Linked DNA regions of Homo sapiens: all the other regions are linked to region 2. The links come from fine-mapping of genetic effects on gene expression. A gene starts in region 2. Each other region holds a variant in brackets. All regions are shown on one strand. Distances are from middle to middle.

The links.
Region 1: its variant is fine-mapped to the expression of SLC5A6 in whole blood (TOPMed, PIP above 0.99).
Region 3: its variant is fine-mapped to the expression of SLC5A6 in aorta (GTEx, PIP above 0.99). The same link has a PIP of 0.9 or more in fibroblasts, lung, pancreas, sigmoid colon, spleen and sun-exposed skin.

Annotation. Positions count from the first base shown.
Region 1 is chr2:27,518,945-27,529,069 of GRCh38, forward strand. GCKR (glucokinase regulator) reads left to right here. Exons shown (of 19, transcript NM_001486.4): 18 at 3,516-3,650; 19 at 4,325-4,740. The coding sequence ends at 4,495. Among named protein-coding and RNA genes, the nearest start is that of SPATA31H1, 13 kb to the right of the region's middle. The variant G/A (reference allele first, on the strand shown) is at 3,126.
Region 2 is chr2:27,206,930-27,215,357 of GRCh38, forward strand. SLC5A6 (solute carrier family 5 member 6) reads right to left here and starts at 5,339. Exons shown (of 17, transcript NM_021095.4): 1 at 5,091-5,339; 2 at 4,538-4,604; 3 at 329-861; 4 at 1-13. The coding sequence starts at 721. ATRAID (all-trans retinoic acid induced differentiation factor) reads left to right here and starts at 5,112. Exons shown (of 7, transcript NM_001170795.4): 1 at 5,112-5,538; 2 at 6,248-6,369; 3 at 8,392-8,428. The coding sequence starts at 5,440. RefSeq lists enhancers at 3,182-3,241, 3,196-3,993 and silencers at 4,776-5,095, 5,286-5,535.
Region 3 is chr2:27,230,926-27,241,309 of GRCh38, forward strand. It overlaps CAD (carbamoyl-phosphate synthetase 2, aspartate transcarbamylase, and dihydroorotase), which reads left to right. Exons shown (of 44, transcript NM_004341.5): 16 at 543-655; 17 at 1,055-1,299; 18 at 1,523-1,769; 19 at 2,117-2,215; 20 at 2,387-2,611; 21 at 2,701-2,883; 22 at 3,083-3,301; 23 at 3,593-3,760; 24 at 4,320-4,502; 25 at 4,611-4,715; 26 at 5,359-5,598; 27 at 5,824-5,905; 28 at 6,454-6,620; 29 at 6,793-6,957; 8 more. Among named protein-coding and RNA genes, the nearest start is that of CAD, 19 kb to the left of the region's middle. RefSeq lists an enhancer at 557-1,756. The variant T/C (reference allele first, on the strand shown) is at 4,997.

The DNA of each region.
Region 1 (10,125 bases), 310 kb after region 2:
TATGATGGGGCAGGGTTGGGTGGGACCTGGCCTCAATGCTTAGGCTGCCAGAGGAGGGCATTTTGTAGAGATATGGAAATGTGCAAGGGTACAGGCTGCCTTTTCTGTGTGCTTCTGCTCCTCCTATTAGGTGCATCTTCCCCTTAAGGAGTGTGTGTGCACACATGGGTGTGTTTGTGAAATTGTAATTATTAGGCAAGACTCTTTCAGTTACAAACGTGATGGAAAACGAGTTTATACTGGTTTAAGCTAAACAAAGAAAATGGTGGCTGATATAACTGAACAATCTTAGGGCAGCTGAATCTAATGTGTTCCAGAACTTTCCACCCTTAACTCTGTTTTCCCCTGTGTTGCTCTCATTCTTTTTTTTTTTTTGAGATGGGGTCTTGCTCTATCGCCCAGGCTGGAGTATAGCGGTGCTATTTCAGCTCAGTGCAACCTCCGCCTCTGAGGTTCCATTGATTCTCCTGCCTCAGCCTCCCGAGTAGCTGGGATTACAGGCACCCCCCACCATGCCCAGCTAATTTTATATTTTTTAGCAGAGACAGGGTTTTGCCATGTTGGCCAGGCTGGTCTCGAACTCCTGACCTCAGGTGATCCACCTGCCTCAGCCTCCTAAAGTGCTGGGATTACAGGCGTGAGTCACTGCACCCGGCCGTTGCTCTCATTCTTAGGCAAGTTTTTTCCATTAGGTGGCAAACTGGCCACCAGTAGTGCCAGCCTGACAATTTACGTAGCAACACTAGTGGGCAAAGAGCTTGCCTGTCCTGTGGTTCTTGCAAATGCCTGGTTGGGGGCTCTTGCTTGGGACACATGCATGTCCCTGAAGCAATCACTGTTCTCCAGAGCAAGGGATGCTCTGCCCAGTCTGGATCATGTGCTTTCCCTTCAGGATGGTGGTGGAAGAAGGGCTGGGAGGTGAGCCTCAATCCAACCTCATTACCTGAGCATGGGGAAGCGATAGATCCTCAGAGGAAAACCAAGGTGCTGATACCAGAAGGAGTGGATGTTGAGCAGACGGCACAACAGATGGTCATGAAAATGGGGTCGCCAGATTCGGCAAATAAAAATACAGGACGCCCAGTTAAATTTGAATTTCAGATAAATATGGAATAATTTTTCCATCAAGTATGCCCTATGCAATATTTGAGATATTTTTGATTTTTTTCATTATATATTTGGATGTCCTGTATTTTTATTCACAAAATCTGGCAACCCTATGTGAAAGGAATCAATCAATGAACATTTAGTGAGCACCCACCAGGTCCCCAAAATAAACTATGGTCCTTACTGAAGTCCAGTGGAGGTATAAAGAAGGTGGGGGTCAGAATGCATTATAGCAAAAAGAAGGCCTCATGGAAGGGGTGGTATTTTGAGCTAGGCCTGGTGGTTATGGCTTGGATAGGTGGACAGAAGAGCATTCCTGTTAGGTCATTCACCAAGTCCCAGAAGGGGGACTGGGCATGATATGTGAGGGACACAGGTCTAACCAGAGTGGCAAGTCACTTTAGAGCGCAGTGAGGGATTGTGAAGAAGTAGGAAGGGGAGGGATGTGGGAGGTTAAAGCCAGGCAGGAATTTGGACTTTGCCAAATGCAGCTAGACCTGCGCTGTCCAAAACATTGGCCACCAGCCACATGTGGCTATTGAGCACTTGAAATGTGGCTAATGTGACTGAGGAACTGAATTTTTAATTTTATGTAAAAACCAAAGCTGTATACTTTTTAAATTAAATGTAACTTTAATATTTTGGTAGGACTACATTTCTCTTTTTAGCATTGCAAATCTAGCACCCAAATTGAGGTGGGCTGGCTGGGCACGGTGGCTCACGCCTGTAATCCCAGCATTCTGGGAGGCCGAAGCAGGCAGATCACTTGAGGTCAGGAGTTCGAGACCAGCCTGGCCAACATGGTGAAACCCCGTCTCTACTAAAAATAAAAAAAATAAAAAAATAGCCGGGCATGTTGGCACAGGCCTATAGTCCTGTCTACTAGGGAGGCTGAGGCAGGAGAATAGCTTGAATCTGGGAGGTGGAGGTTTCAGTGAGCCAAGATAGTGCCACTGCACTCCAGCCTAGGTGACAGAGTGAGACTATCTCTCAAAAAATAAAATTAAAATTAAAAAAAGCCACAAAAAAACAAATTGAGGTGTGCTCTAGTTGCAAAATACACACTGGATTTCAAAATACAAAATCCGAATATAGAAAAATATTGCAAAATATCTGACTAATAATGTTTAATATTGTTTACATTGGGTTATATATTGGGTTAAATAAAATATATTATTAAAATTGATTTCAGGCCAGGTGTGGTGGCTTACACCTGTAATCCCAGCACTTTGGGAGGCCAAAGCGGGCAGATCACAAGGTCAGGAGAAATAGGTGAAATCACATTTTTTTTTTTTTTGAGATGGAGTCTCACTCTGTCACCCAGGCTGGAGTGCAGTGGCATGATCTCGGCTCACTGCAACCTCCACCTCCTGGGTTCAAGTGATCCTCCTGCCTCAGCCTCCTGAGTAGCTGGGATTACAGGCATGCGCCACCACACCCAGCTAATTTTTTTTTTTTTTTTTGTATTTTTAGTAGAGACGGGATTTCACCATATTGGCCAGGCTGGTCTCCAACTCCTGACCTTGTGATCCACCTGCCTCAGCCTCTCAAAGTGCTGGGATTACAGGTGTGAGCTGCTGTGCCTGGCCAATTTCACCTATTTCTTTTTTTAATGCAGCTACTGAAAACTTAAACTTACATATGTGGTTTGCATTATATTTTTTTCTTTATTTTTATTTTTTTTAGAGACAGGGTCTCACGCTGTTACCCAGGCTGGAGGGCAGTGCATTGGCACCATCCGGCTCACTACAGCCTCAAACTCCTGAGCTCAGGCAATCCTCCCACCTCAGCCTCCTGAGTAGCTGGGACGATAGGCAGGTGCCACCATGCCCAGCTAATTTGTTTTATTTTTTGTAGAGATGGGGTCTTGCTGTGTTGCCTAGGCTGGTCTCGAACTCCTGGGCTCAAGTAATCCTCCTGTTTTGACCTCCCAAAGTGCTGGGATTACAGGTGTGACCCACTGTGCCCAGCCTTGCATTATATTTCTACTGGACAATGCTGAGCTAGACAGAGAGGAG[G/A]GTAGTGACAAAATGGAAGCAGTGTTTGCAGATGAACAGTCTTACATTAGTGTGCAAGATGGATTTGGTTACAGAGGAAACTAGAGAGAGGGAGTCCAGATTACCAACCTACAGGATTGGTGGGACACACATGCAAATTTGAGCAATTTGCCATTAATCCTCCAGTTTAACCCAGCCAGTCAAGCCCACCACCAACCCCTTTAACCTAGTTTTTCTTTACACCTGGGAATTACAATTTAGGATTGCCAACATGGACAAATCATCTACAGCCTCTATAGCCAGGCCTCGGGATCCCAGCCTCTCACTCTCATAGTTTATTCTTCTCCCTTGACTCCATTCTTAGTTCCTCTGGCCTTTAGCCTGACACTGATCTTACCACTTCTTCCTTAGCGGTTCTCTGGACAGTCCAAGGCTCGATGCATCGAGAGCCTCCTCCGAGCGATCCACTTTCCCCAGCCACTGTCAGATGATATTCGGGCTGCTCCCATCTCCTGCCATGTCCAGGTTGCACATGAGAAGGAACAGGTATCCTGCCCACTGCTGGTCATTCAACAAATACTTTTTGAGTACTTTCAGTGTGTCAGGAAGTTTGTTCGGCACTGGGTTTACAAAGCTCAGTGGCACTCTGCTCACAAGGACCTCCACATTCATGGGGTCTTTGGACTGGGTTTTGAAGGATGAATAGGAGTTTTCCTGGTCAAAGTGAAGGTTTCTTTCTGCTCTTAATCCACCTTGTTACCACCTTCTAATCTTAATAACATCCTATTTGCATCTAACCTAGTGGCTCCTGATTCCTGTATCAAATGCTTTAACTCCTCCAGGGTTCTGTTTTTTTTTTTTTTTTGAGAGAGAGTCTTGCTCTGTCACCCAGGCTGCTGGAGTGCAGTGGCGCGATCTCGGCTCACTGCAACCTCTGCCCCCGGGTTCAAGAGATTCTCTTGCTTCAGCCTCCCAAATAGCTGGGATTACAGGTGCCAGCCACCAATGCCTGGCTAATTTTTGTATTTTTAGTAGAGATGGGGTTTCGCCATATTGGCCAGGCTTGTCTCAAACTCCTGAACTTAAGTGATCTGCCCACCTCGGCCTCCCAAAGTGCTGGGATTACAGGCGTGAGCCACTGCGCCCGACCTTCCTCCGGGGTTCTTTCTCTGATGACCTCATTCCCTCAGGCTTCAGTGCCCACTGCCTCTTCCCCACAGGTGATACCCATCGCCTTGCTGAGCCTCCTATTCCGGTGCTCGATCACTGAGGCTCAGGCACACCTGGCTGCAGCTCCTTCTGTCTGTGAGGCTGTCAGGAGTGCTCTTGCTGGGCCAGGTCAGAAGCGCACTGCGGACCCCCTCGAGATCCTAGAGCCTGACGTTCAGTGAACCCATGTTTCTGGGTGGGTGAAAGGGGCCCAACCCTGCCCACTTCAGCCCAGCCCGCCCAAGGGGACTTGTGCCAGCAGAACATGTGGGAGGAAGAAGCCCCGTTTCCAGGGCATCCGCAGCCCAGGGTAGGGAGAAATATTCTCTCCACTTTGGGGGAGAGTTCTTGCTCTCGACCTAGTGGTTTCTACTCTCACCGACTTATTCTGATTTCAGAAATAAAATGAAATGTCTTATTTTGGAAAGTTAACCTTTCAAAGTCAGTAAATCAAACAGTAGATCAGAGGTGGGATAGGATGGGTGGCATGGGTTGGTCTTAACAGCAGATTTGTTTCTTTAATTCTGTCCCCAACTCCATTTCATTGGTCCCTAACACAAGCCTTATACTGGCATCCCTATATTTTCATTACCAACATGCAGCCACGTGTGCATGCGTGCACACACACTCCAATCCCACACAGACACACAATGAGAGGTGGGAACTTTTAGATAATTCCAGGGGAAGAGGGAAGAAGTTGTGTACCTAACATAGGAAACCCAGAAAAAGGGCAGTCTTAATCAGACATGACAAGATCTAGAATGACTGCTACATCCACGCATTAGACCATGAAATGAGGGTCACATCCCCTGCCCCGTGTTTGTAAGAGGAACATAAGGAACTCTGGAGGTGCTGAAAGCCCTTGGTGGTGGGACCCAACAAACACTAGAAACCCCGGGCTGTACATTTTAGACATCAGCTACCCCATGTTTTGACAAATCAAAGACACCCTTGTTCATCCTAGATTCATGCCAGCTCTTTAGGGCCTGTGATATATGGCCCTGACAGTAGAGAGCTGGTTCCTCCTTGTGCCTGAGAAATATCCAGGTAATAGATACTCAGGAACATTCCTCTGGGGATGAAACTCTCTGGAAAGGTCCCTGGAACTTTTAGGCAGGAGGGTGACTGCAAAGGAGCCAGATTTTGGTTTTATGAGGATAGAGTAATCAACCTTTTTAAGGTGGCCATAGGCCCCTCTGTGCATCTGAGGGCCTGCAGCCTCTATGTGAGCTCTGTTTTCCTGTTCCACATCTTCACACTGATGCCTTGGATGATCAGTAATCCCCCTTTCCCCAGCCACTACTCTCACGATGCTTCCTGAGTACCACCCCTTTCATCTTCCACAAACACCTCTCCCAAATTCAAGATGGCTAAAGTTAGGAAAGGCTCCTGCAAAGTCCCTCTGCTTCTCTTCACCCACAACTCTCTACCACGTTCTTTCATCGGGTCAGTTCATCTCTCAGCATGGTGTCATGAACAGTGTCAAGTCTGAGAAGATACCTAGCATTCTGGGACCCCAAAGGGCAGAGCACCCCTTGATCCTGTTGATGATGCCAACTGTACAGTAGCTCCCCTCCCACATTTGGAGGGGATAGGGCACAGGGTTAGATTTCTCCAGGGCTGGATGCAGAAGAACTCTAGAAGCCCTGAGTTCTTTTAGTTGCCAAGTACGTGGATGGCATGAAGACATCAAGTGAATTCAATTCTTATGTAGTTGGACACAATATTCAGGTATTATGAATATTGTGGGACATTATTGTGGGACATTATGAATATTGTGGGATAGCCTTGGGGGACATTAGAAGCTAGACACACTCTGGCATTGTGGCAGAGATGAAGATGACTAAGATCTGATGCCTACCCCCTAGAAACTCACAAGCACATAGCAATTAGAATACAAGACAGAGTTGAAGTGGATTAAACAGCGGGATAAGTACAGAGAGCTGCTGAAATTACAGGGTAGGCCAAGAGTCAAGGAAAGTTTTGGAAGAAAGGAGGCTGGGGTGGGGTAAAGGAACAGCCAAAGAAAACGCAAGAAGGTTTGAAGATTCACACTGGGATATGGATCTGATAGCAGAGAATCTGGTCATTGTCAATGGGATTTGTGCTCCAGGCAGAGCTAAAGAAGTTCAAAGATTTTTTTAGAACTATCCAGACACAAATGATAGGGTGACAACTTTTGCAGTTATTTGGAGAAAGTAAACATCTGAGGGCAAAAACAGCAAGAGAATAATCCATTATTAATACAAGGCAGTAATTATGTAGAAAGGACTAAAGGGCCTGGGCCTGAAGACTGGATTAGATTGTGGAAGATGAAGAAAACAATTTCCCAGCACATATATTTGCTGGATCAAAAGCAAAAGGGGGCTAGGTGTGCCATCCTAGCTACTTGAGAGGCTGAGATGGGAGGATCACTTGAGTCCAGGAGTTCAAGGCCAGGCTGGGCCACATTACAAGACCCTGGCTCTAAAACAGAAAAAAAAAACAAGAGGGGGTGGGACAAAATATATTTGGATATCGCACATACTCTAAGCCTGACGTTATACACACACACACACACACACACACACACACACACACACACACACATATATATGGAATATATAATATATATCCATATATATATATGGAACTCATGAACTCGTCTCCAAAATCTAGCTAGCTATTCTTTTCATAATTTAGATGGTCTCTCTCTCTTTTTTTTTTTTTTTAAGGAAAGTGTCTCACTATGTTGTCCAGGCTGCAGTGCAGTGGTGCGGTCATAGCTCACTGCAGCCTCGAACTCCTTGGCTCAAGCAATCTTCCTGCCTCAGCCTCCCGAGTAGCTAGGACTACAAATGTGCACCACCACACCTGGCTCATTTTTAATTTTTTTTTTGTAGAGATGGGGCCCTGCTATGTTGCTCAGGCTGGTCTTGATTCCTGGCCTCCAGTGATCTTACTGCTTTAGCCACCCAAAGTGCTGGGATCGTGTGTGTGAACCACCACACCTGGCCAACATTCGTCCGGTCTAACATTCAGATTGTTTTGAATGTTACACAGCCTGGAGCCAGCTCTTGAATATTAGATAAGCTATAACGTTGAAAGAGGATGTTGGGACCAGGTAGGAGACAGAGGGGTCTCCATCTGGTTCCAGGGATGGGCTCTACAAATACAGCAAAATGCCTAAGATCCAATGGAAACTTAGGGTTGGACCCAATTGGACAGGTGAGTCAAATCCTAGGGTTGAGAGGACAGGTACTATATCTAGGTGATGCAAAATGCTCCCATCCTGGGAGAGAGAAGTGGGTCATTTTTAAGCTAGTAACTGGGGTGCTGTGGAAAAGACAAGGAAAAAGACAGGAAGAGGATCCCTGGAGCATCTTGTAGTCACAGAAAGTAAAGAATTGCTCAAAACCTCCACAAGGATGACAATATGTCAAAGGGATACAAGAGCCAATGTGAAAGAGCTCCTAGTGCCTAAAGTGGGAACAATTTGAGCAACAAAATAAGTAACAAGCTGGTCATGGTGGTAGGCGACAGCAGTCCCAGCTACTTGGGAAGCGAGGTGGGAGGATCGATTTCTTAAGCCCAGGAGGTTGAGGCTGCAGTGAGCTGTCATCATGCCACTGCACTCCAGCCTGGGTGACAGAATGAGACCCTGTCTCAAATAAATAAATAAAATTAAAAAAAACACTTGGTTTAAAAAAATACATGAGTACGCGTGAATTCGTACCGTTATAAGCAAATGATTGAATAAATAAAGTGGGGGAAAGTACCAATTTTTCCTAAAGAAGAATTCTAAATAAACACACACGCGCGCGCACACACACACACACACACACACACACACTCCTTTAGGAAATGGAGCTTAATCATCCCACACCACCTCTCCTCCAATGTGGGTTAGATTTAGGGGCTCACTTACAAAAAAACAGAGTATGGGAAAGGGAATGGGTTTTACGGTGGAGAAACCAGGCAAGCACTACCCTAATCAAGTAATCAAGATGGGCATCACCAGCAGGTATCACGCACCTCCTGATATGATATCATGAGAAAGGCATGTCACCTCTGTGGTATTCTTCCCCCAAACACATAACCTCAGTCTAAGCATAAAGAAAACATCACAGTAACCCAGCTTTAGGGACATATTATAAAATACCTGCTCATATTACAAAATACCTGAAAATTTTCAGTCATGGAAAACAAGAAAAGACTGAGAAACTGTCATAGACCAGAAGAGACTCAGGAAGCATGACTCACCTACAGGGTGCTACCCTCGGTTGGATCCTGGAAAGATAAAGGACTTTAGTGGCAAAACTGGTGAAACTGCATGAAATCTGGAGTTTAGTTAATAGTAAATATACCAATGTTAATCTCATAGTTTTGACAAACGTACCAAACTTATGTAAGATGTTAATGTTAGGTGAAACTAGGTGAAATATATATGGGAATTTGCTGTACTATCTTTGTAACTTTTCTGTAAACCTGAAATTTTTCAAAAATAAAAAGTTTATTCAAAAAATAAATTTAAACTGAAAGCCTTTCCTCTTAGATCTGGAACGTGACAAAGATCCCCACTTTCACCACTGATATTCAACACAGTACTGGAAGTCCTAGCTAGAGCAATCGGACAAGACAAAGAAATAAAGGGCATCCAAACTGGAAAGGAAGAAGTCAAATTATCCTTATTTGAAGGAGATGTGATTTTTTTTTTTTTTTGAGACAGAGTCTTGCTCTGTTGCCCAGGCTGGAGTGCAGTGGTGTGATCTCGGCTCACTGTAACCTCCGCCTCCCGGGTCCAGTCGTTTCTTCTGCCTCAGCCTCCTGAGTAGCTGGGATTATAGGTGCACACCACCATGCCTGGCTAATTTTTTGTTTTTTTGTTTTTTTGTTTTTTTTTTTAGTAGAGACGGGGTTTCACCATGTTGGTCAGGCTGGTCTTGAACTCCTGACCTTGTGATCCACCTGCCTCAGCCTCCCAAAGTGTTGGGATTACAGGCTTGAGCCACTGCACCTGTCAAGATCTCTACAATGAAAGCTATAAAACACTGATGAGAGAAATTGAAGATGGCACAGAAAAATGGAAAGATATTCTATAATCATGGATTGGAAGAATCAATGTTAAAATGTCCGTAGTACCCAAAGCAATCTACAGCTTCAATGCAATCTCTATCAAAATATCAATGACATTCTTCACAGAGATAGCAAAAACATCCTAAAATTTATATGGAACCACAAAAGACCTAGAATAACCAAAGCTATCCTGAGCAAAAAGAACAAAACTAGAGGAATCCATTACCTAACTTCAAATTACATTACAGAGTTATAGTAACGAAAACAGCATGGTACTGGCATAAAAACAGATACATAGACCAATGTAACCGAATAGAGAACTCAAAAACAAATTCACACACCTGCAGTGAACTCGTTTTTGACAAAGGTACCAAGAACATACATTGGGGAAAAGACAGTTTCTATAATAAATGATGCTGGGAAAATTGGATCTCTGATATGGTTTGGTTCTGTGTCGCCACCCAAATCTCATGTTGAATTATAATTCCCAATGTTGTGGGAGGGGCCGGGTGGGAGGTGACTGGATCATGGGGGTGGAGTTCCCCCATTCTGTTTTCATGATAGTGAGTGAGTTCTCACAAGATCTTATGGTTTAAAAGTGTGTGGCACTCTCCCCTTTGTGCTCTCTCTCTTTCCTGCTGCTATGTGAAGAAGATGTTGGCTTCCGCTTCACCTTCCACCATGATTGTAGGTTTCCTAAGGCCTCCCAGTCATGTTTCCTGTTAAGCCTGTGAAACTGTGAGTCAATTAAACCTCC
Region 2 (8,428 bases):
GAAGCTCCAGGTACTGGGTATACAGAAAAAAAGATTTTTCTCCTGACTTCACCCCGACAACTCACAGACAAATTCCCTCAAGATGCTCAGGAACATGAGGGAATATCCAACCCATACCCACTCTGAGTCCTACTCGGCATAGCACCCTCCTCTCCAATCCTGCCCCTATACCTAACATCACTGAGAAAGAATTATAAACACACAATGAGTTTTCTGTCCCTCTCATTAGGTGGAGGAGGTCTAGGGTCCCAGGTCCTTCCTATGTGCCTGTCCCTCCTCTCCACCCCAACCCGTGTCCCACGCACTTCTCCCTTCTGTCCCTGCTCACCTCATAGGCACTGGTGAGATGCAGGCGGTAGAAAACGGGGATGAAGATGTGTGCAGGTATCAGCAGCCCCAGAAAGTAGCAGCAGCCCAGGAACCAATATTGGGTCCCAAATCGGTAGATCTCTGACGGCACACCCAGGATGGCCACGGCTGACTGGAAGGTGGCCAGCAGGGACAGTGCCACCGGAAGGCAGCCCATTTTGCGGTCCGCCATCAGCAGCTCACCAACAGTATGCCGGCCCCAGCCACGACAAGCATGGTAGAGCCCAATGGCAAGAGAGAGAACCAGCAGCAGGACGAACACCACATAGTCCATGATGGAGAAGGTAGACATGCCCACGCTTGTGCCCGAGGTTGGGGAAAGAGGGGCTGAGGTGCTCACCCCTACACTCATATCCTCACTGTGTCTGTGATCTGCAGCCAGTTGCTGCTCCAGGGCTCTGGGGTAGGGCAGGGGCGGATGTGTGGCTACAATCTGGCTTCCAGCCACAGTCTCACAGTCTTCCTCCACGGAGTGATACTGTCCAGGGTGAGCTGCAAAGGAATTAGCTCTTAGTGAGGCCTATCTGGCCTTGGTAGCCATTCACCCTTGGGCCTTGTACATCGCATGCCATCAGAAGTGGACCAGCCAGCATAGTGGTAGCCCTTCAAGGTCTAGAGGCCCTGGTATGGGTTTGGTAGGGGACATAAGTGAGGGAGAAGCATCAGAGTGCGACAGCCAGGAGACAATATAACTTGGCCAGGACCTTTGAGTATGCACAGCTGTGAAATTCAACAACCTTCTTAGGTCTCCACCCGAGTACCAAAAGAAAAATAAACTCTAGCCTAAGTTTCTTAGCAGAATTTCCCAGCCCCACTTGAAGGCACAGACCCAGTCACTACAATACACTAAGCCAGCAGAGCCCAGCCTGGCGCCACAGCCCAGCAGGAAACACAGCATGGAGACTAATGGCAGCAGGGCTTCCCCTACTGCCCCTGGCCTCGGCCCTCGCCTCCTGTGATCCCCAGTGTCACCCTTCTAACTGATCATCAGTGAGACTGCCTCTGTGGCAGCCACAGACTCCATTTCAGGCGTCCCCAGGCCAACCCCTTTCTTAAGGTTCTCCCCAACACCACTAGATAAGTGCTGCCACCCACCTCTCAGCCCCTCTACCTGCAACATCACAGTCAACAGCAGACGCAGGAAGAGCGGCTGGATTCAAAAGTGAGAGGGGAAAGGTGAGAGGGCACCATGCTGGAGTCAGGGTTTCAGAATGACGATTCTCCATTCTGGAGAGAAGCAACCCAGTCACGGAGCTGAGAGGCAAAGGGACCAGCCAAAGAGAGTGGTCGTATCCTGCTGGGGACAGACACCTACCTGGAGAAGCAATCCCTGTTCTGAGGCAGAGTTGCCTGGAGCTGCAGAGCTGAGGATCTGGCTCTATGAGTAGCTGAGGTGAGAGATCAGGAATTGGGGGTGGGGTGAAGCTCAGCAGTCATTTGTTCTGGCCCCTTCAGGGAACCAATGGCTGTGTTCCAAATGGCCCTATCACCCTATGGCCCCCAAACTCCAACTCAGCCCTAGAGGCTCCAGAACAGGGAAGAGGGAGCTCATATTCAACAGCATTCCTAGATGGATTAGCCTTTCAGCCTAAAGTACTCTTGGCACTCTGTGCGGGAGGGAGTTGGAAAGAAGGAACTGAAAACATGGGAAAGTTGAAAGTTGATTTTCTAACTCCTGCACAAGAAATGTTAATCCCCCAAGAATACACCACAATCCTCAGAGAAAGAGGGAAGGGATCATAATATTTAAAATCTTAAATCTTTGGACACCACTATTACAACCAACCCCCCACCACTGACGATTTCACAGATAAACACGCTAAGGCTCAGATGGTTCAAGTGACCTTTCCAAAAGCACAGAGCCGACTATTGTCAGAGCATAAATTAGAACCCAGGTCTAGGGATTCACCATCCACCCTGTCTGTTCTCCAAGCGTATCATATTGTCTTCAAAGGCAATCCTCTGGGGTACTTATTGGTATGAGGAAAAAACACCAGAGAATGCCATGTAGTTACACAGCCTAACATGACGACAGTTAACATTTGCTGAACACCTGCTATGTAACCCAGCAGTGTGTGAGGTGCTTTATAAACATTAGTAATAATACATAATGAAGCTAACATTTTCAAAACAGCATGTCTCAGATTAAGACACGAATACTCTCCAGTTAACACAAGAAAACTGAGAGATTAAATAACTTGCTCAAGGTTATGCAGCATGATACAAAACAAGAGAGAGAGAAACAGTGCTGTCTGCAGCTATGACAGGTGTTCAGCAAGGGCCCTGTCCTCACTATTCCCAGAACCAGGACAGGAGCAGAGTGTTGCAGTCAGTCATTCACAGGACATAGTTTAGATTTCAACTAATCAAGAGACAGACTAACATAAACTATGTCTTCTGCTTTTGCCCACTAGGAGAAAGATTAGGCTGCCTTTCCGCTCTCCCACAGTGTGTTCTTGGGCAGACACTGGCTGGCTGGCAAGATATGGCCTCATGCAGACTAAACCTGAACTCTGAACCTCTTGGGGCCAATAAAGAGGGAAAATCAGACCTGGCAACTCTTGGATCACATGTTCTACAAGATTCCCAACAGGCTTAAACTCTGGTTTAACCTAAACATGCCCTGGGCCTTTGCACATTGCAACACCCTGAGTTTTCTCATTCGTCTTTGGCAAGTTTTTACTGCTATGATAGAGATGATGGGAACTACTGGGGAGTAAGAGGAAAGAAGAGGTCTCCTGTGTGCAAAGAACACAGAACAAAGAACTAACTATAGGGTTAGTGGTTTAGAGAGGTAGGTGGCCAGAGACAGGAAGGAAAGTCCCAGTATGGGACACGGAGGTACAGAAATAAAGACACTCTGCTGATGGGACTTCCTGATAAAATTCTATTTGCATGATGTATGGAGAATTCCCCTGGATGGCCTGAGAGAGCCCCAGGGAAGACAGGAAAAACCTGACCTAGCAACAGACCAGATTCTGAGAACAGATCTGTAGTTTTCTAAACACCCTACATTGATCCAAACGCTATGGTCTCGCATCTCTCCAGAAAGAGGGCGGCCAAAAGCAAGAGCTAGCTGTTGTTTCACTACAACTATAACATGCCAAGGCACAAACAGCAGATTGTGGGACCCCCCCCCCTTTTTTTTTGGAGACGGAGTCTCGCTCTGTCGCCCAGGCTGGAGTGCAGTGACACGATCTCGGCTCACTGCAACCTCCACCTCCTGGGTTCAAGTGATTCTTCTGCCTCAGCCTCCTGAGTAGCTGGGACTACAGGCATGTGCTACCGCGCCCAGCTAATTTTTTTTTTTTTTTTTTGTATTTTTAGTAGAGACGAGATTTCACCATATTGGCCAGGCTGGTCTCAAAACTCCTGACATGACGATCCACCTGCCTTGGCGGATCGGTGGCCTGGCCACCGCGCCAGGCCAAGTTCAGGTTTTTAAAAGGGGTCCCACATCACTGCCTGTAATCCCAGCACTTTGGGAGGCCGAGGCGGGCAGATCACGAGGTCAGGAGATCGAGACCATCCTGGCTAACACGGTGAAACCCCGTCTCTACTAAAAAATACAAAAAATTAGCCAGGCGTGGTGGCAGGCGCCTGTAGTCCCAGCTACTCGGGAGGTTGAGGCAGGAGAATGGCGTGAACCCGCGAGGCGGAGCTTGCAGTGAGCCGAGATCGCGCCACTGCACTCCAGCCTGGGCGACAGAGCGAGACTCCGTCTCAAAATAAAAATAAAAATAAAAATAAAAACCTGAACTCACTTTGGTCACACACTGCAGTGGATCGCATTGACTCCTACAAAAGGCAATGAGACCACTGCAGGACTAACTGTTCCAAAAAGATTCCCTCAAAATCTGTCCTGGGGCCTATAATTCCTCAAGGTGTGAAAGGCTTTGGGGGCCCTCCTTAAAATGCTAATAGCTACTAACACCTTAGAAAATTTGCCAGCCAGCTAAACGTAAACCTTTCAGGAACTTCCAGGCAGACACCATGGGGGTAATGTGGAAGGGAAGCCTGGCTCGGCTACTCGAGATGATCACTTGGGTCGGCTTTAAGGAGCTTTCTGGCTGGCCCTAACCAACACTGTCGCGCCGGGAGCAGGGATCCCCTGGCGCCCTTCAGTCAGGGCGCTGGCCCACCCTGGGGCAGCAACGCACTCCCTTACCTCCGTGGTTCAGTCAGAGCTAGGAAGGTCCCTTTGTGCTTCCTGAGATCAACATCGCTCCCTTTTCCTGGGAAGGCAAAGAAAATGAGTTAGGGAAGCGTCTATCCCGCTCCTACCTCCTCGCCAGGCTCCGGGACGCTATGCGCTATCAGCATTGAGGTGAAGAGGACTAGGTGCCCGGGGCGATCCAGGCTCGTGTCCTCCCGCTGGAGTTTGAGGTTTGCCCTTCCCTCATCACCCTCACCCTCGTTCTTTCTCGGTTTCCCGCTTCCCTCTACGCGGCGGAGACCACCACCTTACCGCTCGCACTTAAGATCTCAGACCCACGCCGGAGGCCGGCTCGCTCCGCCCCTCCCCGCCCCCTTGTCCCCGCCCCGGCTCAGACGCCGCTCCCCGGTGCCTCTCGGCACCGGCTCACGCTCTCCAGGCCCACCTGCCCGGTCTCCACACGTGGGTAGCCAGAGCCCGGCCGAGAGCCCTGGCCGGGAGCCCGCGGGGGCCCCGCCCCCTGCCCGCCCCCTGCCCGCCCCGCTCGCCGTGCCGCCATGTTTACTGAGGGCGGATGGAGGGGCCCGAGTTTCTGCGAAGCCGCGACCTCGGCGTCCGGACGCGGGGAACACCGGGCTGAGGGAGTCTGCAGTCGGCTCCGGGAAGCCGCGCGGCGACGGGGGAGGCCTTCACTAAAGGGGAAAAGGAAGAGGGGGTCGGCCAGTATCCCCGAAAGAGGGCTAGGGCGCATGAAGACCAGCGCAGAGCTCCACGAGCAGGAAAAGCCCCCAAGCAGCCCCAGGGCGACTGGACCGGGCCGCTTAGGCCACGCCCGGGGAAGAGGGCCTGACGCGCTGCGGGGCGGGGCCGCGGGGCCGGGTCGCGCGAGCAGCGGAGCACCAAGGGAACGGAAAATGGCGCCTCACGACCCGGGTAGTCTTACGACCCTGGTGCCCTGGGCTGCCGCCCTGCTCCTCGCTCTGGGCGTGGAAAGGGCTCTGGCGCTACCCGAGGTACAGAAGCAAGTTTGAGGTCGGGCTGAAGCAGGGTCGCTGGCCAGCCGTGCGTCGCGCTCGCCAGCGGCTCCCCCTTCTCCTCGGCGGGCCTGCGGTTCTGATTTCGTCCCTGACGCTTCCCGACCCTGCCCAGCCAGGTCCTGTTCCCAAGTACTCACGTCGTGCAGGCCTTCGGCGCCCCAGTCCTGCCGACTTTCAAAGACCTGTGAAACTTGATTTCGCCCCTTAATTTTAGAATAACTTTAAGTTCTTTCTACAGACGGGTCCTCTGCCTCTTGTGTAATCTCTCTACGCACGAACGCCATATATCGTGCGGTGGTAGGGCTGTACTTTTGTAATGCTTGATGAGTTCTTTACGTACCTGCGGTCGTTTTACACCGCGCCAAACTAGGGCTGTCAGATTGAGAAGTCTCTGCAGAAAGCATAATAAATAAGTTCGAATAGTGATCTTCAGAGATGAGGACCTTCCCTGTGCGATATCTGGTACTGAAAGTGTCGGGAGCTGATTCGGCGCAGGACTCTGGAGGAAGAGATGGCATCTCCTAGCCTAGCCTGTTACAAGGGTGGGACACGAGCCGTTTATCCATTTATCGGCCCCGTGTTAGAGGAATTCTGGAAACGTGTACTGGCAGTTAATTCTTGATCGCCGTTTGTTCTTTTCTTGGCTTTTCTTTCTGGAGTTCTAATGTTTCTTTCTCTTCTGCAGATATGCACCCAATGTCCAGGGAGCGTGCAAAATTTGTCAAAAGTGGCCTTTTATTGTAAAACGACACGAGAGCTAATGCTGCATGCCCGTTGCTGCCTGAATCAGAAGGGCACCATCTTGGGGTGAGGGGAAGACATCCCTAGATGCTGGATACAGGCCATTCCTTAGCCTGGCTGCTTTTATACCCTTATATTATTTAAAGAATCCACCTATTATGGTTTCAGCTGTAATCATCACGCAGATGTCTACCAAAACTAGATCTCTTTAGTGTCTTTTTTAACCTTTCCACACTCCAGGTACATACGGGTACCTCTAGCTTCCTATTAAGCATTTCCTACTGAGTGCACCCTAACTTCAAACTCAAAATGTTATGTTTTGCTTCCATTCTCTTCTTTCCTTCATCTACCTAAATACTTCTCTGTATTAAGCTTTTAGAAAACCAACATTTTCCATTATCACTCTCTTGCTTTAATACTATATTTAGTATTAAATTTTGTCTCAGGACAAAATTCAAACCATTAAGTACCATACTAGTCCCAACCCACTTTTCCAACATTATTTCCAATTACTTGTCCGCTCAAACCTCCATAATGGTCTGCACCAGCCAGATTTGCCTGCCCTCAAAGGCATTCCACCTTTGTTCAGGCCTCTCTCCATACCTGAAATTGCCTTCCTCTACCAAATTAGGAAATATCCATCCTTCAATTCCAACATCTTTTGTGAATATTTACTACTACTAAGTTCCAGAGTAATACCTTTTTTAAATTATTATTTATTTATTTTTTTGAGACGGAGTTTCACTCTTGTTGCCCAGGCTGGAATGCAATGGCATGATCTCGGCTCACCGCGCCCTCCACCTCCTGGGTTCAAGCGATTCAGTAATACCTTTTTTAAAAACTTCCTGTAATCTTTAGTGTCCACTCAAATATATTTATACACTGTCCTGTGGTTTCTTTTATATTGTAATTTAATGTTTACAGTGCTTTTATTTTTGGGCAGTGCTCTTGTTCCTCTAACTACATTGTAAGCCACTCAAAGGCCAAAATACTGTGTTACATATTTTTAACATTCTCCCAGTGTTTGCAGTTTGTAGGGACTCAGTAAATATTTGTAGAATAAAGGAATGGATAGCAGTAGATATTGAAGAAAAAAATAACGTGGCATGATCCTTAATGTCCAGCAGTTTACAACCAATCTGTGGTAGAAAATACATGTGGAAAAAAACTTTGATTTATGTGACTTTTTTTTTTTAATTTAAAGGCCCTCTGTGGATCTGAAAATCATAATATGAGATTCACTAATGTAGACAAGAAACACAGATTTCTCCCAATAGATGCATAACCGATTAGAACAGTGCTGGCGGATAGAACTTTCTGTGATTATGAAAATGTTCCGAGCCAGGCGCGGTGGCTCATGCCTGTAATCCCAGCACTTTGGGAGGCCCAGATGGGCGGATCACGAGGTCAGGAGTTCAAGACCAGCCTGACCAACATGGTGAAACCCCGTCTCTACTAAAAATACAAAAATTAGCCAGGCGTGGTGGCATGTGCCTATAATCTCAGCTACTCAGGAGGCTGAGGCAGGAGAATTGCTTGAACCCGGGAGATGGAGGTTGCAGTGAGCCGAGATCGTGCCACTGCACTCCAGCTTGGGCAACAGAGTAAGACTGTCTCAAAAAAGGAAAATGTTCCGTATCTGTACTAACCAGTACAGTAGCTACTAACGTGGTTATTCCATTTGCACTTGAAATACGGCTAGTGCAAATGAGACACTGAATTTTTAGGTTAAATTAATTTTCTTCTATAGAGTCAGGGTCTCATTCATATTGCCCAGGCTGGTCTTGAATTCCTAGGTTCAAGTGATCCTCCCCCGCTTGGCCTCCTAAAGTGCTGGGATTACAGGAGTGAGTCACTACACCCAGCCTAAGGTACATTAATTTAAATTTAAGTAGTTACATGTGGCAAGTGGCGATTCTATTGGATAATGCAGAATTAAAATGTCTACCACAGCTCCTAGTGTGTGACTCTGAACACAGCTGTGTTCAATTATTAGCTGAAAAGGGGGTTGTGTAGTCAAATACAAACTGTGCCGTGGCTGAAGAAAAAGAGGAACACACAGTTATATTGATTACTTTATTTCCTCAGGCTGGATCTCCAGAACTGTTCTCTGGAGGACCCTGGT
Region 3 (10,384 bases), 25 kb after region 2:
TCAATAAGCACAAAGCCTGAGCTTATCCATGAAAATAGCAGGGAAAAGAGCTATAAGTTAAGATTTCTTTTTGTTTGTTTGTTTGTTTTGTTTTGTTTGAGACGGAGTCTCGCTTTGTTCCCCGGGCTGGAGTGCAATGGTGTGATCGCTGCTCACTGCAAGCTCCACCTCCCGGGTTCACGCCATTTTCCTGCCTCAGCCTCTGGAGTAGCTGGGGCTACAGGCGCCCGCCACCACTCCCGGCTAATTTTTTTGTATTTTTAGTAGAGACGGGGTTTCACCATGTTAGCCAGGATGGTCTCGATCTCCTGACCTCGTGATCCTTCCGCCTCAGCCTCCCAAAGTGCTGGGATTACAGGCGTGAGCCACTGCGCCCGGCCATTAAGATTTCTTAGTTGTGAAACACCATGAATCCCACCATCATGTGACTTGCCTTGAGAATCTCCCAGAGTCTTGACTATAAACCATAAGCATTATGGGCAGTGCCTTCTTCCCACCCCTTCCACCTCCACACCTTCATTCCTTCCATTCTGTTCTTCCAGGTGAAGTCATGGGCATTGGGCGTTCATTTGAGGAGGCCTTCCAGAAGGCCCTGCGCATGGTGGATGAGAACTGTGTGGGCTTTGATCACACAGTGAAACCAGTCAGCGATATGGTAAGTAGCTCCCCTCCCCTGGCAATACCCCTAAAATAGACCCTGCTTCTCATCGCCCCCAGACCATGAGCTTGTTACCAGTAACACTAGCAGCAGTCATCATTGGACATTTGCTTTGTTTCCACTTTGCTGAGAATTTTGAGATGTCTCATTAGCACGCAAGGGTGTATTACTAGACTTGTTTTTACAGATGAGGAAACTGAGACATAGGTTATAGAAATTACTCAAAGCCACATAGCCAATGAGAGGTAGACCCAGGATTGGTATCCAGGTTTTTGCAGTTACACAGCCTGTGCTCTGGTGTACAGTTTCCCCTTCCTGAGACAAGAGCAGCTACTTACGCTCAGGCTTTTAGATGGGCTGGCAGTAGCTTCCGTCTGTCTACCCCCTTTCTATCAGGAGTTGGAGACTCCAACAGATAAGCGGATTTTTGTGGTGGCAGCTGCTTTGTGGGCTGGTTATTCAGTGGACCGCCTGTATGAGCTCACACGCATCGACCGCTGGTTCCTGCACCGAATGAAGCGTATCATCGCACATGCCCAGCTGCTAGAACAACACCGTGGACAGCCTTTGCCGCCAGACCTGCTGCAACAGGCCAAGTGTCTTGGCTTCTCAGACAAACAGATTGCCCTTGCAGTTCTGAGGTCAGAGGTGGCAATGAGAGCTTCCGGCTGGGAAATGTGGGGCAGAACCTTTGTATCAGTGAGGGACCCTTGGGAGGGAGGAAGGAGAGTGTGGGAGAGCTTTAGAGGCTTCTGACCTTGGTTCCAAGGATATTTCCTCTCATCTGTGCCCTGGGGTCTCAACCCTCTATCAGTCTGTACCCTACTCTCTGGGCCTGTGTTTCAGACCCTTTTTCTATTTTAGCACAGAGCTGGCTGTTCGCAAGCTGCGTCAGGAACTGGGGATCTGTCCAGCAGTGAAACAGATTGACACAGTTGCAGCTGAGTGGCCAGCCCAGACAAATTACCTATACCTAACGTATTGGGGCACCACCCATGACCTCACCTTTCGAACACCTCATGTCCTAGTCCTTGGCTCTGGCGTCTACCGTATTGGCTCTAGCGTTGAATTTGACTGGTGTGCTGTAGGCTGCATCCAGCAGCTCCGAAAGGTCAGAGAGTTCATTTTCTTTCCACTTTCCTTGCTATTCTGTTCATCTCTAGCAATTGCTTGGCACTAATCCTGGCATTTCCTATTAATTGCCGTCCCTTACTTTGGTCATAGAGCTTTGGGGTGGGGGTCCTTTTAGGCCATCTCTCATGCCCCACACGGTATATGAATCTCTTCCCCAACACTTTGTACCTCCTTCCCTCCCAAGGCAGGGGTCCTGTACAGCTCTTTCAGAGGAAGCTGTGCTGGCAGTCTCTGAAGTAGGGGCTTTGGCTTAGTTTCTCCACGATTTTCTCCACGATTTTCCTCCCACCTGACTGCTAAGTACCCTTCCCCTCCCTCTTGCAGATGGGATATAAGACCATCATGGTGAACTATAACCCAGAGACAGTCAGCACCGACTATGACATGTGTGATCGACTCTACTTTGATGAGATCTCTTTTGAGGTGAGGGAGATGGAGGCTTCCTGGTAGCTTGAGTGGCCAGGGTCGAGTAGAACAGCTGGCTGACCTAAGATTCTTTGAAACTTGGTGGCGGCTGAGGGAAGCAGTGAGCAGGAAGGCTCAGATTCCTGCCCTCTTTTGCTGCCACCACTTGTTTCTCCCCCTGCAACGTAGGTGGTGATGGACATCTATGAGCTCGAGAACCCTGAAGGTGTGATCCTATCCATGGGTGGACAGCTGCCCAACAACATGGCCATGGCGTTGCATCGGCAGCAGTGCCGGGTGCTGGGCACCTCCCCTGAAGCCATTGACTCGGCTGAGAACCGTTTCAAGTTTTCCCGGCTCCTTGACACCATTGGTATCAGCCAGCCTCAGTGGAGGGAGCTCAGTGACCTCGAGGTGGGCTGGGACCTGGTGGGTTACCCGGAGGCTGGATGATGCTTGGGGGAAAGTGTGAACAACTCAGCTAAGCTCCCTGCCTCCTGTAGTCTGCTCGCCAATTCTGCCAGACCGTGGGGTACCCCTGTGTGGTGCGCCCCTCCTATGTGCTGAGCGGTGCTGCTATGAATGTGGCCTACACGGATGGAGACCTGGAGCGCTTCCTGAGCAGCGCAGCAGCCGTCTCCAAAGAGCATCCCGTGGTCATCTCCAAGTTCATCCAGGAGGCTAAGGTGGGAGGCTGCAGACAGTGAAGTCTCTGAGGGCATGCTGCCAGCCCTGGAGGAGACTTCCTTCTCTGGTCCAGCAGAATCATAGGCACCAGGGCTGGGAACAGTGGGCTATGTGGGGCTCGTTAAAGGAAGAGACAATCCTAGAGTAAGTGAGAGAAGAAAGTGGCCCTATGTCCCACTGTCTGTGTCCCCCCGCTAGGAGATTGACGTGGATGCCGTGGCCTCTGATGGTGTGGTGGCAGCCATCGCCATCTCTGAGCATGTGGAGAATGCAGGTGTGCATTCAGGTGATGCGACGCTGGTGACCCCCCCACAAGATATCACTGCCAAAACCCTGGAGCGGATCAAAGCCATTGTGCATGCTGTGGGCCAGGAGCTACAGGTCACAGGACCCTTCAATCTGCAGCTCATTGCCAAGGTAATAAGGCTAAAGGAAAGAACTAAAGGGCCACAGCTCTTGCATGTTCTGTGCTGGCCACAGTGCCATGAAGCCCTGCACTGTCTCCTGCCTTCATCCAAGTAGGCAGGGAAGCTGGAGGGAAAGGGCTGTAGCTAGAGCTCATGGTGTTGGGGCTTATGACAGTCAGTGACCCTGAACCCTGCTCAGTCTGATCCCCCAGAGCTGAGGACGGAGAGGAAGAGTCTAGGCCTATAGATAGTGTCAGCAAGGCCAACCTGCAGAAGGCCTGACCAGTCTTCTCTGCCCCAGGATGACCAGCTGAAAGTTATTGAATGCAACGTACGTGTCTCTCGCTCCTTCCCCTTCGTTTCCAAGACACTGGGTGTGGACCTAGTAGCCTTGGCCACGCGGGTCATCATGGGGGAAGAAGTGGAACCTGTGGGGCTAATGACTGGTTCTGGAGTCGTGGGAGTAAAGGTAAGGAATATCGAAACCCTTGGGGTTAGCAGAAAAATAGCGGGAGAGAGTTCACTCACCACACAGAGTTGTCAGTATGTAAACCAGGCACTGACTGCAAGGCATTGCCGGATCGTGGGGGTAATGAGGTGGTCATTGTCCCTTAAGAGCTTACTTTATGGTAATGGGAGGGAAGAGAAGTTGGATCCCCAAAAAAGCTTTGGTATAGAACAGTCCGTGGTAAAACTACATATTCGACCTGTAAACAGAATGCTGCAGGAGTTCAAGAGACAGGAGGTGCTGCTTCCAAAAGGGGTGATCTGGGAAGGCTTGAGCGAAGGGGTGCTATTTGAATTGAGTTTTGAAGGATGGTTAAGGTTTTTTATTTGCAAGGGCACATCCTAAGCAGAAGCTGAGGGATGACCCCAAGTACGTTTGGAAAGCAGGAGGGCACACAGAGAGGGCAGGCTGACCCTGCCATTCAGATGGGATCAAGCACAGGGTACTGTGTCCGTCTCTGCTGGTGAGGGAGGAGGTCCTCTCACACCTTGGCCCTCTCTCTTCCCTCCCGCCCCTTTAGGTGCCTCAGTTCTCCTTCTCCCGCTTGGCGGGTGCTGACGTGGTGTTGGGTGTGGAAATGACCAGTACTGGGGAGGTGGCCGGCTTTGGGGAGAGCCGCTGTGAGGCATACCTCAAGGCCATGCTAAGCACTGGCTTTAAGATCCCCAAGAAGAATATCCTGCTGACCATTGGCAGCTATAAGGTATCAGAATCCAGGAGGGCTTCCCGAGGGCCGTGGCTCCCTGGGCCAGGGCTGACCTTGAAATGGAAGACAGGAAGAAAACAATTTCATCCTTCTGTTTGGTTTCAGAACAAAAGCGAGCTGCTCCCAACTGTGCGGCTACTGGAGAGCCTGGGCTACAGCCTCTATGCCAGTCTCGGCACAGCTGACTTCTACACTGAGCATGGCGTCAAGGTGCAGGAACTCTGGCAACCTACCCCACTGCTGCCCTTCCCCAAGGGGGTGAAAATACTGCACCAAAGAATTATCTGGGCTGGGCACGGTGGCATATACCTGTAGTCCCAGATACTCAGGAGGCTAAGGCAGGAGAATCTCTTGAGCCCAGGAGGTAGAGGCTGCAGTGAGCTGCGAGTGTGCAGTGAGTGCACCACTGCACTCCAGCTTGGGAAACAGTGAGATGCTGTCTCAAAAAAAAAAAAAACAAAGAATTATCTCCTATTCCCCTGCTTTTATTA[T/C]TACCATTATACTAGTAAGCTATATTCCATGCAGAAAGCAGAATACACAGGAAGCAAAGAGAAAAGTCTCTTAAAATCTCTGTACCACTGTTCTGATATTTTTCCTTCCAGGATTTTCTCTGTGTACATGTGTGTGAGCTCATACTGCACCTAGTCCTTGGTAACCCATCTTACTTAGTGTAGATATCTTTCCTGCCAAGAAATACACTTTGCCAGTATCAAATAGAGGCAGCCCTCAGTGCCCACCCTATGGGTCCTCAGTCTCCTCATCATGGGCTCCTGGGCCAGCTCCTCTCCCTTAAGGCTAGCCTTCCTGACCGCTGCCAGACAGCTTGGCCCTGACCTTGACTCCGGGTTGGCAGGTAACAGCTGTGGACTGGCACTTTGAGGAGGCTGTGGATGGTGAGTGCCCACCACAGCGGAGCATCCTGGAGCAGCTAGCTGAGAAAAACTTTGAGCTGGTGATTAACCTGTCAATGCGTGGAGCTGGGGGCCGGCGTCTCTCTTCCTTTGTCACCAAGGGCTACCGCACCCGACGCTTGGCCGCTGACTTCTCCGTGCCCCTAATCATCGATATCAAGTGCACCAAACTCTTTGTGGAGGTAACTGAGACCCATGTGCTGGGAGGGAGACTGCCAGTGTTGATGGGAAGAAGAAAGAGGGAGGAGTGAGTATGGAACAGCCATGCTAGTAATAAAGCTTTGTGGCTACAGAGGGAGAGATGGTGGGTATAGAGTGTGCAGAGCCTGGTTTATGGGAAAACCACATCTCTCCCTACAACTCCCAGGATCACCCTTCCCTTAAAGCTGACTGCTTTCCACTTGCAGGCCCTAGGCCAGATCGGGCCAGCCCCTCCTTTGAAGGTGCATGTTGACTGTATGACCTCCCAAAAGCTTGTGCGACTGCCGGGTAAGTCTTTGGGGAGAACTTGGCTTCTGAACACTGGCAGCCCCTGGCATAGAGACCTGCAGTGTGGTGAAGGATGGCTGGGGGGCCCACTCTTTGTCCTGGACTGCACAGACTGTGAAGACCCCAGAATGTTTCTCACTCTTTCATTCCTTAATCCACAGTGTCCACAGTGGCCTTGTCTGAGGAATTTTTTTTTTTTTTTTTTTTTTGAGACAGAGTCTTACTCCATCGCCCAGGTTGGAGTGCAGTGGTGTGTGATATCGGCTCACTGCAACCTCCGCCTCCCAGGTTCAAGCGATTTTCCTGCCTCAGCCTCCCAAGTAGCTGGGATTACAGGTGTGTGCTACCACACCAGGCTAATTTTTGTGTTTTTAGTAGAGACGGGGTTTCACCATGTTGGTCAGGTTGGTCTCGAACTCCTGATCTCAGGTGATCTGCCCACCTCGGCCTCCCAAAGTGCTAGGATTACAGGCGTGAGCCACCATGTCCAGCTCACCCTTCCTATTTCTGAATCTTCCTGTAATCTTGCTGCTTCCATTTTCTCCCAGGATTGATTGATGTCCATGTGCACCTGCGGGAACCAGGTGGGACACATAAGGAGGACTTTGCTTCAGGCACAGCCGCTGCCCTGGCTGGGGGTATCACCATGGTGTGTGCCATGCCTAATACCCGGCCCCCCATCATTGACGCCCCTGCTCTGGCCCTGGCCCAGAAGGTGAGCCACTGCACTCTTCCTGGTATTGGAGACCCATATGCCCCTACCAGCCACCCTTGCTTCCCTGAGCCCTTTTCCTTCTGCCCCGCCCTATGGGCCCAGGCCACTGGTGCCAGGCTAGCCTGTGTGGGCATGGGTGCCAGTGAGCCTTACCTCTGTGTATCCTCTCCAGCTGGCAGAGGCTGGCGCCCGGTGCGACTTTGCGCTATTCCTTGGGGCCTCGTCTGAAAATGCAGGAACCTTGGGCACCGTGGCCGGGTCTGCAGCCGGGCTGAAGCTTTACCTCAATGAGACCTTCTCTGAGCTGCGGCTGGACAGCGTGGTCCAGTGGATGGAGGTAGGGAGTGTGCATGTGGCAGGAGGCCACCACCCAGTGTCTCCTGGCTTGTGGGCCCCTGCCTAAGTGGGCTGGTAGCAGTGAGGATTCAGGGGAGCTCCTGGGGACTCTGGGCTCTGATGAGCACAGTCAGAGATTCTGCACACTCCTTCATCAGTTCTTTCTGCTCCCAGCATTTCGAGACATGGCCCTCCCACCTCCCCATTGTGGCTCACGCAGAGCAGCAAACCGTGGCTGCTGTCCTCATGGTGGCTCAGCTCACTCAGCGCTCAGTGCACATATGTCACGTGGCACGGAAGGAGGAGGTAAGAGTACACCTGAGATCCTGCTGTCCCTGTTGCTTTCCCAGTAACACCAAAGGTCAGGGTAGTCCTTAGGGGCAGGAGACAGCAGGAGGAGAGTCTGGAGACAGCAGGAGGAGGGTCTCGAGCCAGCACCCTTGCAGGTCTACATCATCATTTTTTGAGCAGGGATGTTGGCCATTGGGACTTTGTGTAGGGCAAGGCATATGGGTGGTGCCTCTTCTGGATCTTCCCATTGTTCCCCAGATCCTGCTAATTAAAGCTGCAAAGGCACGGGGCTTGCCAGTGACCTGCGAGGTGGCTCCCCACCACCTGTTCCTAAGCCATGATGACCTGGAGCGCCTGGGGCCTGGGAAGGGGGAGGTCCGGCCTGAGCTTGGCTCCCGCCAGGATGTGGAAGCCCTGTGGGAGAACATGGCTGTCATCGACTGCTTTGCCTCAGACCATGGTGAGAGAATCCAGCATGTACCTCCTCTGCCCAGTGGGGCTTGTGGGACAGCCCTAGCAAGAAAATGGGAAGCAGGCCAGGCCTCAGGACTCTACTAGGACAGGGTCTTGATCCGTATGGGACCCTAGCCTCTAGGGTACCTGGTCTGTGATAGGTGCCTGATAAATACTTGTTGAAAGAATGAATGAGCCAGTGAGTAGAACTGCAAGTGAAAGAATACATGGGTAAAAGTGTGGGCTCCAGAAGATGGCAGCAGTCCTGTTGCCCTTGTTTCTAGTTCCCAGAAAAAATGAGCATTGGGAGTGGTAGTGAGCATAAGGAGGTTGTTGGAAGTGCAGTCCTGGGGTGTGAGTGACTTCCTAGACATGGAGGTGATTGGTCCTGAGGGTAATGGCTTTCTTTCTCCCAGCTCCCCATACCTTGGAGGAGAAGTGTGGGTCCAGGCCCCCACCTGGGTTCCCAGGGTTAGAGACCATGCTGCCACTACTCCTGACGGCTGTAAGCGAGGGCCGGCTCAGCCTGGACGACCTGCTGCAGCGATTGCACCACAATCCTCGGCGCATCTTTCACCTGCCCCCGCAGGAGGACACCTATGTGGAGGTGTGGGGATGAGGCCCAGAGCAGGAGGGGGGCTCTCCAGCCCTAGGATATGTTCTCTGGGGATCCTTTCCCTAGCATAACCCATGTCCTCTGGGCAGGTGGATCTGGAGCATGAGTGGACAATTCCCAGCCACATGCCCTTCTCCAAGGCCCACTGGACACCTTTTGAAGGGCAGAAAGTGAAGGGCACCGTCCGCCGTGTGGTCCTGCGAGGGGAGGTTGCCTATATCGATGGGCAGGTACGCAAGTAGCCCCTGCCTGATCTCAGTAGTGCCCTCTTCTGCACCACGTTCATTTCTTCCCTTCCCAGCACATCTACACTGTCCCACTATGTGCACCACTGCCCTGGACCAGGGGTTGGGGGCACAGCTCCCCCAAGGTGCTTTTTGTCCTTGCTGACATCTACCCCTTTAGGACCTGAGTTCTCTCTGCTCCCTCCTGAGTGCCCTGCCTTCTGCCTGCAGGTTCTGGTACCCCCGGGCTATGGACAGGATGTACGGAAGTGGCCACAGGGGGCTGTTCCTCAGCTCCCACCCTCAGCCCCTGCCACTAGTGAGATGACCACGGTATCCACACTACTGGGCTAGGGGGCTGGGAGGTGTTAGTCTCAGGGCAGGATGAACAGCTTGAACATTTTCATTGGTGGTTCAGGAACAATTGGGGTTTTCTTGAGGGACTGAATTTGAAGTGGGGTTGGGTCAATTATTTTTTTAAAATGCTGGGCCAGGCCAGATGTGGTGGCTCACACTTGTAATCCCAGCACTTTGGGAGGCCAAGGCAGGCGGATCATCTGAGGTCAGGAGTTTAAGACCAGCCTAGCCAACATGGTGAAACCCCATCTCTACTAAAAATAAAAAAATTAGCCAGGCGTGGTGGTGCACATCTGTAATCCCAGCTACTTGGGAGGCTGAGGCAGGAGAATTGCTTGAACCCAGAAGGTCACGCCACTGCACTCCAGCCTGAGCGACAGAACGAGACTCCGTCTCAAAAGAAAAAAAAAAAAACAACTCTGGGCCAACGTTATCCCTCCAGACACCTGAAAGACCCCGCCGTGGCATCCCAGGGCTTCCTGATGGCCGCTTCCATCTGCCGCCCCGAATCCATCGAGCCTCCGACCCAGGTTTGCCAGGTAAGAGTGGGGTTCCTGTGACTCAGAGACTGTGTAGGGACAGGATCCACTTCTTCCCAGTGCCTCGCCTTTCTCTACTTACATGTCCTCCTCTCCATCCCTTTATCCTCGTCTGATCTGCCGTGCCATCCTTTGCCTAAACAAGTCTCCCCGGTGTGAGTAGACATCTCACAGCTTCTCACATGCCCTTTTTTGTTGTGGGCAGCTGTGTTCCTCCGCCCAGGAGCTGGGATCCCACGGGGCAGCAGAGCGTGGGGTAAATCCAGGTTGTTGGTTGGTGTGAGTCTGGCCGTTCCTCTTGCCTAGGATGCCTTTGCCAACTGGGAGAGCCCCGGGAGGGCACCACTGCTCCCATACAACACAGCCCCATGGGAAGCCACCTGTCTGTCCCCAGAGCTGCTGCAGTCCCCTGCCCTCCCCTAACCTGCTATATTACTGTGTTGTGAATTGGTTTAACATATACACTGTGATTCAGAGTTCCTGGGAATATGGGGTTTCTTTCCAAACCTCAGCCATAAATGTATATCTGTCCTCTTGTCCTGTTTGCAGCTGAGGAGCCAAAGGAGAAGTCCTCTCGGAAGGTAGCCGAGCCAGGTGAGACTCCACCCTGACACACACTCACCTCGGGGACCTCTGATCTGGCCTTGGTAGGAGGAACCCTCTGACCAGCCTTTTCTGCCCCATCCCTCACTGCAGAGCTGATGGGAACCCCTGATGGCACCTGCTACCCTCCACCACCAGTACCGAGACAGGCATCTCCCCAGAACCTGGGGACCCCTGGCTTGCTGCACCCCCAGACCTCACCCCTGCTGCACTCATTAGTGGGCCAACATATCCTGTCCGTCCAGCAGTTCACCAAGGATCAGGTGCCTGGGGCAGGGAGGATGGGACCACCCAGAGCTTTGAGGATTTGGAAAGCTGGGGCTAGGACCTTTCTAGCTAACTTGG